3 linked regions of the Homo sapiens genome follow. The protein of the gene in region 2 interacts with the protein of the main gene of each other region in a pairwise test. Each region holds a gene or a part of one and is shown on either strand. Other genes may lie near its edges.

Region 1 (4,344 bases), on a different chromosome or scaffold from region 2:
GCCCCGATTCACCCCTGCCCAAAGGAGACAGCAATGGCATGTGTGGGGCCACAGTCTTGAGACCCAGAGGTCCTGCTGCCCACGATACCCACTGTCCACCCTAGGGGGACTGGCCGTAGCCCTGGAGCCCGCAAACACCATGCAGGAATGCAAGAGGGTCTCAGCTCCCGAGTCCCAGGCTGGGAGGGCCCACAGTCCAGTAAACTAATCAGGCCCCGACACATCCAGGAGAGCAGCTCCAGGAGCCTGCATTGGGGAGAGAGCCTCAGACCCCTGCCACAGGCCTGCACCCCAGAAGTAGGAGCATGGGAAGACCTCTCCTTGGCTCCTGGCCAGCAGAAGTCACATTCCCCAGCCCTCTGGCTCCAAGGCAGCCTCACGTCCCAGTCACTCCTTGGCACACCCTACCAGTTGGTCAGAGCTCACTGCCAAAGGGCACCTCAATGATGAGTGGAGGGAACAGGTGTTTACCAGGAGCTTGCATGCTTTGCCTCAGGGATGATTAGGGACACAGCCAAGAAGGCACGCTATGCCCATTTTACAGATGAGGAAACGGAGGCTCAGGTTGGGCTGGTGACTAAGGGAAGCAGCATGTGGCAGGTGGCTTGAGGCATGTCTGTCCATCATGAGTAACTAGGGAGCAGCCCTGCCACTCCTCATGCGATGCACCAGGAGCCAGGGAAGCTGCTTCCTAGGGGATTCTAGCTAAGGCCAGAAGCATCTCCCTGAGTGGTGGTGGAGGCCTCTGTCTACTCCTCCAGGACTGCCAGGGGATAGGAGGGCACTGCTGACCTCACAGAGCCTCTTGGGTGAGTGAGCATCAGCTGAGCGACACCAGGTGACTACGCTTCTGCCCAGTGCTGTGCCCCCCTCTGACTCGGGCAAGGCACCACCCTGAACGCCCCACCCTGTCCCATGGAGGCCGCAAACTGCTCTGCAGAGCCAGGGTCTCCAGGAATGGGGAGGGCAGTCACCCTCATTCCACTTGTGTTCATGACTCAAAGGACTGCCCAGGTCTCCAGGCCCATAGAACCCCCAAACCTCTTACTAGGCCACACTGGGGACCTTGAGCAGCAGGCTTGGAATCCTAGGCCTTGTCTCCAGGTACATATCAGTACCCAGGCTTGGGAAGCTTTGGTCTCAGGGGGGCTGGCACTCAGGCCCTCTGCCTCAAGGAAGAAGCATGTCCAGATCTCTACTGTCCAGCCCTGCTCCCTGCCCCTATCCTTCACGGGGTCCCTAGGACAGGGTTACAGAAGCCTCATGCTGTCAGGGGATGCTGCCACCCTAGTTCCAGGGTGGCTCCGCCCAGCCCCTTCCTGCTGCCGCCCTCACTGACTCACCTGTCCAGCCTCCTACTGGGCTGGGGTGAGGGCTTATTGCCCCAGAGCCTAGATAGGCACCAGAGGCAGCTATAAAAGCATGTTGGGCCAGTCCTCAGCATCCTAGTTCGCCACTGTCTGCTGCCACACGATGCTGGGAGGCCTGGGGAAGCTGGCTGCCGAGGGCCTGGCCCACCGCACCGAGAAGGCCACCGAGGGAGCCAGTGAGGACCCAGGGCTCCTTTCTACCTGGGCTGGGGGGATCTGGGGCAGACTGGGTCTGTGGGAGGCGGATCTACGTAGGCAGGCGAGGACCTGCGGGGAGGCCTTGGCCCCTCAGGAACCCTGGTCTCCTGCTCTACCAAGTCAGCACGGAGTTGAGGGGTGCAGACCTGGGGAGGTCTCCTGGGGGCAGGGCATGAGTCCTGGTGCTGGGTGAACACTGGCAGCTTGGACCCTTCCCTCTGGAAATCTGGGGAGCCTTTCTTGTCAAAACAGCCTATTCTGAATAACCTATGCAGGAAAAGGAAGATGGATTTTTATTTTTACCATAACTTTAAAGCTTCAAAGATTTCTTAACAAGTCACCAAGTCTGTTCAAAGTCAAAAAGGGCATTTTCAATTTCATCCAAGTCCCCTAAAGCATGTTTATTTTTATTTGTATTTGTATTTGAAATGGAGTCTTGCTCTGGCACCCAGGCTGGAGTGTAGTGGTGCGATCTCGGCTCACTGTAACCTTTGCCTCCTGGGTTCAAAGTGATTCTCATGCCTCAGCCTCCTGAGTAGCTGGGATTACAGGCACCCACCACCACGCCCGACTAATTTTTGTATTTTTAGCAGAGACGGGGTTTCGCCATTTTGGCCAGGCTGGTCTCAAACTCCTGACCTCAAGTGATCCATTCCTCTTGGCCTCCCAAAGTGCTGGGATTACAGGCGTGAACCACTGCACCTGGTCCCGAAGTGTATGTTGTATTCAGAGGTCAGCAGGTATGTGTGGGGAGGCCCAGCCAGGCCCCACTCATGGGTCATCGTGTGAAAAAGTCTTGCCTGAGTTTGTGTCCTCTTTCTAAATGGCAGCAGATGCGTATTTTGTTTTTGACTCTGCAGCTGGTGTGGACCACCTGCTTTAACCTTTCACTAGCCTCTGAGTTTTTTATGATTCCTGTTGGGAGAAAAGCTCAGCGTTGGGAGAAAAGCTGAGGCAGGGCTTGCTAGACTTGCTGGCTCCTTGCTTCTAGCACTGCCATTCTCTCAAGTAGCCATATGTTTCTCATTCACTTGATACACTGTTTCCTTTCAACCTCCACATCCTCACCACCTGTTTCTTTGTTAGATCACCAATAAATAGCGTGGGCTCCCAGAACTCGGGGCCTTCGCAGCCTCCACACTCGCGATAGCGCCCTGCTCCCATTTTCTCTCTCGAACTGTCTCTTTGTCATTCCTTTGACTCCGCTGGACTTGCCGCCCCCGTGACCTGGTGTTGGGTCTCATCATCCCAACAGATTCCCATTCTAAAGATGAGGGAACCAAGAGGTGGAAGGTAGAGTTAGAATAAGAACCATTTCTTCTGACTCTGAAATCCTTCAGTTCTAGCACGCTACCACCCACACTTTAAAAAACTCTGAAGTAGGCAGAGAATTCCGTTTTGTTGGAGGAATTGCTTTGAGAGACCTGGTCTTAGTGGATGAGGCTTTGGAAACCAACCTGAGGCAGGCGCTAGCACATCCTGAGAGGGGTGTGACCTGGCACACAGGCCCAGCCTGGGCTTCATGTCTCAGCTGGCAAGACTGCCTGCTCATTGCCATTCCAGGCCGGGCAGGGCCAAGGGGCTTCAGGGACCCATGCCCTCATGGGGCTCATTGAGCTCGTCTCCCAGCAGCCAAGGCCCTGGCGTCTCCAAATGAAGCCAGCTGTGGGGGAAGGTCCTTCTCATGAGTCAGTCTGTCCTGGCTGGGGGTGGCACCCCAGAGCCCCATCTAGGATGCCCAGGGATGTATAGGTCTGTTGTGAGGATAAGCCAGCCCTGAGCCCTCACCCTGGACTGGGAGGGCAGTGGGCCTGCTCTGAGCCCTCACCCTGGACTGGGAGGGCAGCGGCTCTGCTCTGAACCCTCACCCTGGACTCGGGGGCAGCCGGCCTGCTCTGAGCCCTCACCCTGGACTTGTCTCCTCTGTTCAGTTCATGCCGTGGAGGAAGTGGTGAAGGAGGTGGTGGGACATGCCAAGGAGACTGGAGAGAAAGGTACAGCCGGCTGAGGTCGGGCAGGGAAGGAGGGAGGGAGGAAGGGAAGCTAGGTGCTGGGCCAACCTGTTCTTTGACTAACCAGGTCAAACTCTGCCCCTAATGTTGCAGCCTTTCAGAGCCTCTTGGCTGGGGCAGTTATCTATGCTCATCAGAGGCCACAGACTGTACTGCGTTAGGACACTGTCTAGATGGTTCTCTCTGTGGAATAAGAAGACAAAGTCACACAAGACTATGTGACAGCACACTGGGACAAAACATTTAACATGGCAGGGTGCGGTGGCTCATGCCTGTAATCCCAGCACTTTGGGAGGCTGAGGAGGGCGGATCATGAGGTCAGGAGATCGAGACCATCCTGGCTAACACGGTGAAACCCCGTCTCTACTAAAAATACATAAAAATTAGCCGGGCATGGTGGTGGGTGCCTATAGTCCCAGCTACTTGGGAGGCTGAGGCAGGAGAATGGTGTGTACCTGGGAGGCAGAGCTTGCAGTGAGCCTAGATCATGCCACTGCACTCCAGCCTGGGCTACAGAGCAAGACTCGGTCTCAAAAAAAAAGAAAAAAATAATTGCTGGGGGCGGTGGCTCACGCCTGTAATCCCAGCACTTTGGGAGGCTGAGGTGGGCGGATCATGAGGTCAGGAGATCCAGACCACGGTGAAACCGCATCTCTACTAAAAATACAAAAAATTAGCTGGGCACGGTGGCGGGCACCTGTAGTCCTAGCTACTCGGGAGGCTGAGGCAGGAGAATGGCGTGAACCTGGAAGGTGGAGCTTGCA
Region 2 (3,645 bases):
CCTCAGCCTCCAGAGTAGCTGGGACTACAGGCGCCCGCCACCACGCCCGGCTAATTTTTTTGTATTTTTAGTAGAGACGGGGTTTCACCATGTTAGCCACGATGGTCTCGATCTCCTGACCTCGCGATCCGCCCGCCTCGGCCTCCCAAAATTCTGGGATTACAGGCGTGAGCCACTGTGCCCGGCCAAAATATGAAATTTCTATCTGGCCCTCAAAAGTTGTTGACTTTTTAAAAGCTTCCTTTGGTAATTCCAGGCACAGTGCTTAGCATTTTACAAATACTCCTCACTTAATCCTGAAGACAACTCTAATGAGTTGGGTGTTGTACTATTACGGCTATCTTGCAGACAAGGACTTTTAAGTCTTTAAAGAGCTCGGGTCCCCTGCCCAATGTCAGACAGCAGGTGGGGATGCAATAGCCAAGCCCAGAGATCATGCTGTTAACACCAGTGGCTTCTCCCTGGTTGGAGGCCTCCCATCTTAGTCCACCTTTCGGTTTCAACTGGTCTGCGGTCTGCGCACACTGGGATCAGGGAAGAAGATGTGAGGCCATTTTGTATCATAGTAATAAGTACCTTAGCAGTAGGGTCTAGAGAGCTACATCATTTCAGAAGTAAAGAATGGGAGGATAATGTGAAACAGAATCTTTCCCTAGAATTAATCCTATCAAAAGTAAGCAGAACAAAATTATACTTGGCCTAAGGTTCTTATTTACCTAGGTGTGTATATATATATATATATATATATAATTCACCCCTTCATAATATTGTTAACTATCACTGGTAAAAAGTAATGCAATGCTGTAGTACTCTTGTATCATACATGACACAACTAAACTCAGTGTGATGGAAACTTTTCTGAAACTCTACTTTCTGTGTCTGGCCATGAGCTTTCTTTTTTTCCGGGGGGACAAGGTCTCACTGCCGCACAGGCTGCAATGCCACCATGCCCAGCTAATTTTTGTATTCTTTGTAGAGACAGGGTTTCACCATGTTGCCCAGGCTGGTCTCAAACTCTTGAGCTCAAGTGATCTGCCTGCCTCAGCCTCCCAAAGTGCTGAGATTACAGGTGTGCACCACCATGTCCGGCCTGGCCATAAGCTTTCTAGCTTACAAAAATTATGTTTTACAGATAACTACTAATCACTTAAGCAAATCTGAACTCCACCAAAAGTTCTAACTGCTAAGAAAATTTTCCTAATTTGAAGTGGTAAGTTACCAATTGTCCCATAAACAATTATTAATTTAAAAAAAATCCCAAATGTATCCATGTTACCATAGAAACTAAATGGCAGTAAAGCAATGAGAGATTAAACTTTTAATCTGGTTTCAAGATCTAAATTACATTTATTTTTAGAGACAGGGTCTCACTCTGTCACCTAGGCTGGAGTGCAGTGGTGTGATAACAGCTCACTGCAGCCTCAAATTCCCCCTGTCTCAGACTCCTGAGTAGCTGGGATTACAGATGCATGCCACTATGCCCAGCTAATAAATTTTTTTTTTTTTTTTAGAAATGGGTTCTCACCCAAACTGGTCAACACGGTGAGACCCCATATCTATTAAAAATACAAAAAATTGCAAGCGTGGTGGTGGGCACCTGTAATCCCAGCTACTCAGGATGCTGAGGCAGGAGAATTGCTTGAACAGGAGGCAGGGGTTGCAGTGAGCTGAGGTTGCACCACTGCACTCCAGCATGGGCAACAAGAGTGAGACTCCGTCTCAAAACAAAAACAAACAAAAATAAAGAAATGGGGTCTCACTATGTTGCCCAGACTGGTCTTGAACTCTTGGCCTCCAGCAATCTCCTGTCGTGGCTCCCAAGTGTTGGGATTACAGGTGTGAGCCACCACGCCTGGCCCTAATTTACATTTGAAAGTCAACTGGTTCTCTTTGGTTACAATTTAATTATACATCCATCCTTTAAAAACATGGCATTTATTTAGCTCTTTATAAATCATATACTTCTGTAAGATGCTGATGTCTTTCAAGGCATTTCCTAAAATGTGTGGACTGTTTACATCCTTATTATATCTGAATCTTTTTACCATTTCAATTATAATAACAAGATTACCAAATGGACCAGCTTAGTTATTCCTGCAGCTGTGTCCACCTCATCTTGTTCTGTTCTCTTGGAATTCTCTCCTTCCCCAACTCTACCTGTAGGGTAACATTCTCAAGAGCCAGGTCAGACTCCACCTCTTACAGAAACTTTTGGATGAAATCTCTCCTTTCTATGTACTCAATCATGTTTTACTTACATTTTTCTTTAAAGGACTTCATTATGTTCTGCCTTGACTTACAATTATTTAAGGACTTGCCTTATCCTTCCTTCCACCTTTCTTAGAACAAGAGTTGCATCATGCTCATTTGTATACTCTGCACCACAAAGCAGGAGGTTTGATAAATATTGAATTGAAATAACATAATTTCCTAATATTGCATTTTTCTGCTGACATTATCTGACCCTGGCCTGGTTCCTTTAGCACCCTTAGATTAAACTGAACCCCAACTCCAAAAGTCTTGTTGGCTGCAAAAGTTAGAAGCAGCCTGGCCAGCCTCCTTCAGTGGAATATGAAGGAGCCCTTGCAGATTTTGATTCCCACTCTAGAGCTTTTATCTAGATGACCATGGCAACTGAACAAAAGCTGGTGAGAGCTGTTAGAGTGTTTGAATTTGGTAGACCAGAAGTCCTGAAACTCAGTCAGATGTTGCAGTACCAGTTCCAAAAGACCATTAGTTGTAATCAAGGTTCATGCGTGTGGTGTCAACCCCATGGAGACATACATTTACTCTGGTATTTATAATAGAAAACCACCTTATTCTATGCTCAGATGTAACTGGGGTAACGGAAGCTGTTGGAGGGAATGCATCTACTTTCAAGAAAAGTGACAGTTTTCACTACCGGCACAATCTCTGGGAGCAGATTACGCTGTTTACAAACTGCCTGAAAAACTGGACTTTAAACAAAATGCTGCCATTGGTATCCCATATCTTACTGCATATCGAGCTCTGATTCACAGTGTCTGTATGAAAGCTGGAGAGTGTTCTGGTTCATGGGGCTAGTGGAGGAGCTGCAGTAGCAACATGCCAAATTGCTAGAGTTTATGTCTTAAAGGTTTTGGGCACAGTTGGTACTGAGGGACAAAAAGACTTTTGCAAAATGGAGCCCACAAAGTGTTTAATTACAAAGAAGTTAACTATGTTGATAAAATTAAGAAATGTGTGATAAGAAAGGAATTGATGTGATTATTGAAATAATAGCTAATATAAATCTTAGTAAATATGCGAATTGTTTGTCATATGGAAGATAAGTAATAGGTGTTGGCAACAGTGGTACCATTGAAATAAACCCATGGGACACTATGGCAAAAGAGTCTAGTAAAATTGTCGTTACTCTATTTTCCTCAACCAAGGAGGAATCTCAGCAATTTGCAGCAGCCTGTCAAGCTGGAATGGAAATTGGTTGGCTGAAACCTGTAATAAGTTCTCACTATATGTTGGAGAGGTGGCCCAGGCTCATGAAAATATCTCTCACGGCAATGGGGCTACTGTAAAAATGATTCTTCTCTTTTGATGATTAATTCTTTCATGGATTTCAGAGGTTGTCTTTTGCCCAGTTTTACTTACACAATCTTTTGTTTAATT
Region 3 (4,147 bases), on a different chromosome or scaffold from region 2:
TGCAAGCTCCACCTTCCAGGTTCACGCCATTCTCCTGCCTCAGCCTCCCGAGTAGCTAGGACTACAGGTGCCCGCCACCGTGCCCAGCTAATTTTTTGTATTTTTAGTAGAGATGGGGTTTCACCGTGGTCTGGATCTCCTGACCTCATGATCCGCCCACCTCAGCCTCCCAAAGTGCTGGGATTACAGGCGTGAGCCACCGCCCCCAGCAATTTTTTTGAGACCGAGTTTCGCTCTGTAGCCCAGGCTGGAGTGCAGTGGCATGATCTAGGCTCACTGCAAGCTCTGCCTCCCAGGTACACACCATTCTCCTGCCTCAGCCTCCCAAGTAGCTGGGACTATAGGCACCCACCACCATGCCCGGCTAATTTTTATGTATTTTTAGTAGAGACGGGGTTTCACCGTGTTAGCCAGGATGGTCTCGATCTCCTGACCTCGTGATCCGCCCTCCTCAGCCTCCCAAAGTGCTGGGATTACAGGCATGAGCCACCGTGCCCTGCCATGTTAAATGTTTTGTCCCAGTGTGCTGTCACATAGTCTTGTGTGACTTTGTCTTCTTATTCCACAGAGAGAACCATCTAGACAGTGTCCTAACGCAGTACGGTCTGTGGCCTCTGATGAGCATAGATAACTGCCCCAGCCAAGAGGCTCTGAAAGGCTGCAACATTAGGGGCAGAGTTTGACCTGGTTAGTCAAAGAACAGGTTGGCCCAGCACCTAGCTTCCCTTCCTCCCTCCCTCCTTCCCTGCCCGACCTCAGCCGGCTGTACCTTTCTCTCCAGTCTCCTTGGCATGTCCCACCACCTCCTTCACCACTTCCTCCACGGCATGAACTGAACAGAGGAGACAAGTCCAGGGTGAGGGCTCAGAGCAGGCCGGCTGCCCCTGAGTCCAGGGTGAGGGTTCAGAGCAGAGCCGCTGCCCTCCCAGTCCAGGGTGAGGGCTCAGAGCAGGCCCACTGCCCTCCCAGTCCAGGGTGAGGGCTCAGGGCTGGCTTATCCTCACAACAGACCTATACATCCCTGGGCATCCTAGATGGGGCTCTGGGATGCCACCCCCAGCCAGGACAGACTGGCTCATGAGAAGGACCTTCCCCCACAGCTGGCTTCATTTGGAGACGCCAGGGCCTTGGCTACCGGGAGACGAGCTCAGTGAGCCCCATGAGGGCATGGGTCCCTGAAGCCCCTTGGCCCTGCCCGGCCTGGAATGGCAATGAGCAGGCAGTCTTGCCAGCTGAGACATGAAACCCAGGCTGGGCCTGTGTGCCAGGTCACACCCCTCTCAGGATGTGCTAGCGCCTGCCTCAGGTTGGTTTCCAAAGCCTCATCCACTAAGACCAGGTCTCTCAAAGCAATTCCTCCAACAAAACGGAATTCTCTGCCTACTTCAGAGTTTTTTAAAGTGTGGGTGGTAGTGTGCTAGAACTGAAGGATTTCAGAGTCAGAAGAAATGGTTCTTATTCTAACTCTACCTTCCACCTCTTGGTTCCCTCATCTTTAGAATGGGAATCTGTTGGGATGATGAGACCCAACACCAGGTCACGGGGGCGGCAAGTCCAGCGGAGTCAAAGGAATGAGAAAGAGACAGTTCGAGAGAGAAAATGGGAGCAGGGCGCTATCGCGAGTGTGGAGGCTGCGAAGGCCCCGAGTTCTGGGAGCCCACGCTATTTATTGGTGATCTAACAAAGAAACAGGTGGTGAGGATGTGGAGGTTGAAAGGCAACAGTGTATCAAGTGAATGAGAAACATATGGCTACTTGAGAGAATGGCAGTGCTAGAAGCAAGGAGCCAGCAAGTCTAGCAAGCCCTGCCTCAGCTTTTCTCCCAACACTCAGCTTTTCTCCCAACAGGAATCATAGAAAACTCAGAGGCTAGTGAAAGGTTAAAGCAGGTGGTCCACACCAGCTGCAGAGTCAAAAACAAAATACGCATCTGCTGCCATTTAGAAAGAGGACACAAACTCAGGCAAGACTTTTTCACACGATGACCCATGAGTGGGGCCTGGCTGGGCCTCCCCACACATACCTGCTGACCTCTGAATACAACATACACTTCGGGACCAGGTGCAGTGGTTCACGCCTGTAATCCCAGCACTTTGGGAGGCCAAGAGGAATGGATCACTTGAGGGCAGGAGTTTGAGACCAGCCTGGCCAAAATGGCGAAACCCCGTCTCTGCTAAAAATACAAAAATTAGTCGGGCGTGGTGGTGGGTGCCTGTAATCCCAGCTACTCAGGAGGCTGAGGCATGAGAATCACTTTGAACCCAGGAGGCAAAGGTTACAGTGAGCCGAGATCGCACCACTACACTCCAGCCTGGGTGCCAGAGCAAGACTCCATTTCAAATACAAATACAAATAAAAATAAACATGCTTTAGGGGACTTGGATGAAATTGAAAATGCCCTTTTTGACTTTGAACAGACTTGGTGACTTGTTAAGAAATCTTTGAAGCTTTAAAGTTATGGTAAAAATAAAAATCCATCTTCCTTTTCCTGCATAGGTTATTCAGAATAGGCTGTTTTGACAAGAAAGGCTCCCCAGATTTCCAGAGGGAAGGGTCCAAGCTGCCAGTGTTCACCCAGCACCAGGACTCATGCCCTGCCCCCAGGAGACCTCCCCAGGTCTGCACCCCTCAACTCCGTGCTGACTTGGTAGAGCAGGAGACCAGGGTTCCTGAGGGGCCAAGGCCTCCCCGCAGGTCCTCGCCTGCCTACGTAGATCCGCCTCCCACAGACCCAGTCTGCCCCAGATCCCCCCAGCCCAGGTAGAAAGGAGCCCCGGGTCCTCACTGGCTCCCTCGGTGGCCTTCTCGGTGCGGTGGGCCAGGCCCTCGGCAGCCAGCTTCCCCAGGCCTCCCAGCATCGTGTGGCAGCAGACAGTGGCGAACTAGGATGCTGAGGACTGGCCCAACATGCTTTTATAGCTGCCTCTGGTGTCTGTCTAGGCTCTGGGGCAATAAGCCCTCACCCCAGCCCAGTAGGAGGCTGGACAGGTGAGTCAGTGAGGGCGGCAGCAGGAAGGGGCTGGGCGGAGCCACCCTGGAACTAGGGTGGCAGCATCCCCTGACAGCATGAGGCTTCTGTAACCCTGTCCTAGGGACCCCGTGAAGGATAGGGGCAGGGAGCAGGGCTGGACAGTAGAGATCTGGACATGCTTCTTCCTTGAGGCAGAGGGCCTGAGTGCCAGCCCCCCTGAGACCAAAGCTTCCCAAGCCTGGGTACTGATATGTACCTGGAGACAAGGCCTAGGATTCCAAGCCTGCTGCTCAAGGTCCCCAGTGTGGCCTAGTAAGAGGTTTGGGGGTTCTATGGGCCTGGAGACCTGGGCAGTCCTTTGGGTCATGAACACAAGTGGAATGAGGGTGACTGCCCTCCCCATTCCTGGAGACCCTGGCTCTGCAGAGCAGTTTGCGGCCTCCATGGGACAGGGTGGGGCGTTCAGGGTGGTGCCTTGCCCGAGTCAGAGGGGGGCACAGCACTGGGCAGAAGCGTAGTCACCTGGTGTCACTCAGCTGATGCTCACTCACCCAAGAGGCTCTGTGAGGTCAGCAGTGCCCTCCTATCCCCTGGCAGTCCTGGAGGAGTAGACAGAGGCCTCCACCACCACTCAGGGAGATGCTTCTGGCCTTAGCTAGAATCCCCTAGGAAGCAGCTTCCCTGGCTCCTGGTGCATCGCATGAGGAGTGGCAGGGCTGCTCCCTAGTTACTCATGATGGACAGACATGCCTCAAGCCACCTGCCACATGCTGCTTCCCTTAGTCACCAGCCCAACCTGAGCCTCCGTTTCCTCATCTGTAAAATGGGCATAGCGTGTCTTCTTGGCTGTGTCCCTAATCATCCCTGAGACAAAGCATGCAAGCTCCTGGTAAACACCTGTTCCCTCCACTCATCATTGAGGTGCCCTTTGGCAGTGAGCTCTGACCAACTGGTAGGGTGTGCCAAGGAGTGACTGGGACGTGAGGCTGCCTTGGAGCCAGAGGGCTGGGGAATGTGACTTCTGCTGGCCAGGAGCCAAGGAGAGGTCTTCCCATGCTCCTACTTCTGGGGTGCAGGCCTGTGGCAGGGGTCTGAGGCTCTCTCCCCAATGCAGGCTCCTGGAGCTGCTCTCCTGGATGTGTCGGGGCCTGATTAGTTTACTGGACTGTGGGCCCT

The links.
Region 1: the proteins of ARMC10 (region 2) and FAM25G interact in a two-hybrid assay, tested with the Homo sapiens proteins (one large-scale study listed by BioGRID).
Region 3: the proteins of ARMC10 (region 2) and FAM25C interact in a two-hybrid assay, tested with the Homo sapiens proteins (one large-scale study listed by BioGRID).

The regions. Positions count from the first base shown.
Region 1 is NC_000010.11:47,488,804-47,493,147, reverse strand, and holds the start of FAM25G (protein FAM25G), read left to right. Parts: upstream 1-1,447; 5' UTR 1,448-1,473; coding exon 1,474-1,546; intron 1,547-3,499; coding exon 3,500-3,562; intron 3,563-4,344.
Region 2 is NC_000007.14:103,088,593-103,092,237, reverse strand, and holds part of ARMC10 (armadillo repeat-containing protein 10), read right to left. Parts: exon of another isoform or gene 2,610-3,645; intron 1-2,609. UniProt on the Homo sapiens protein: May play a role in cell survival and cell growth. May suppress the transcriptional activity of p53/TP53.
Region 3 is NC_000010.11:47,996,908-48,001,054, forward strand, and holds the start of FAM25C (protein FAM25C), read right to left. Parts: upstream 2,885-4,147; 5' UTR 2,859-2,884; coding exon 2,786-2,858; intron 833-2,785; coding exon 770-832; intron 1-769.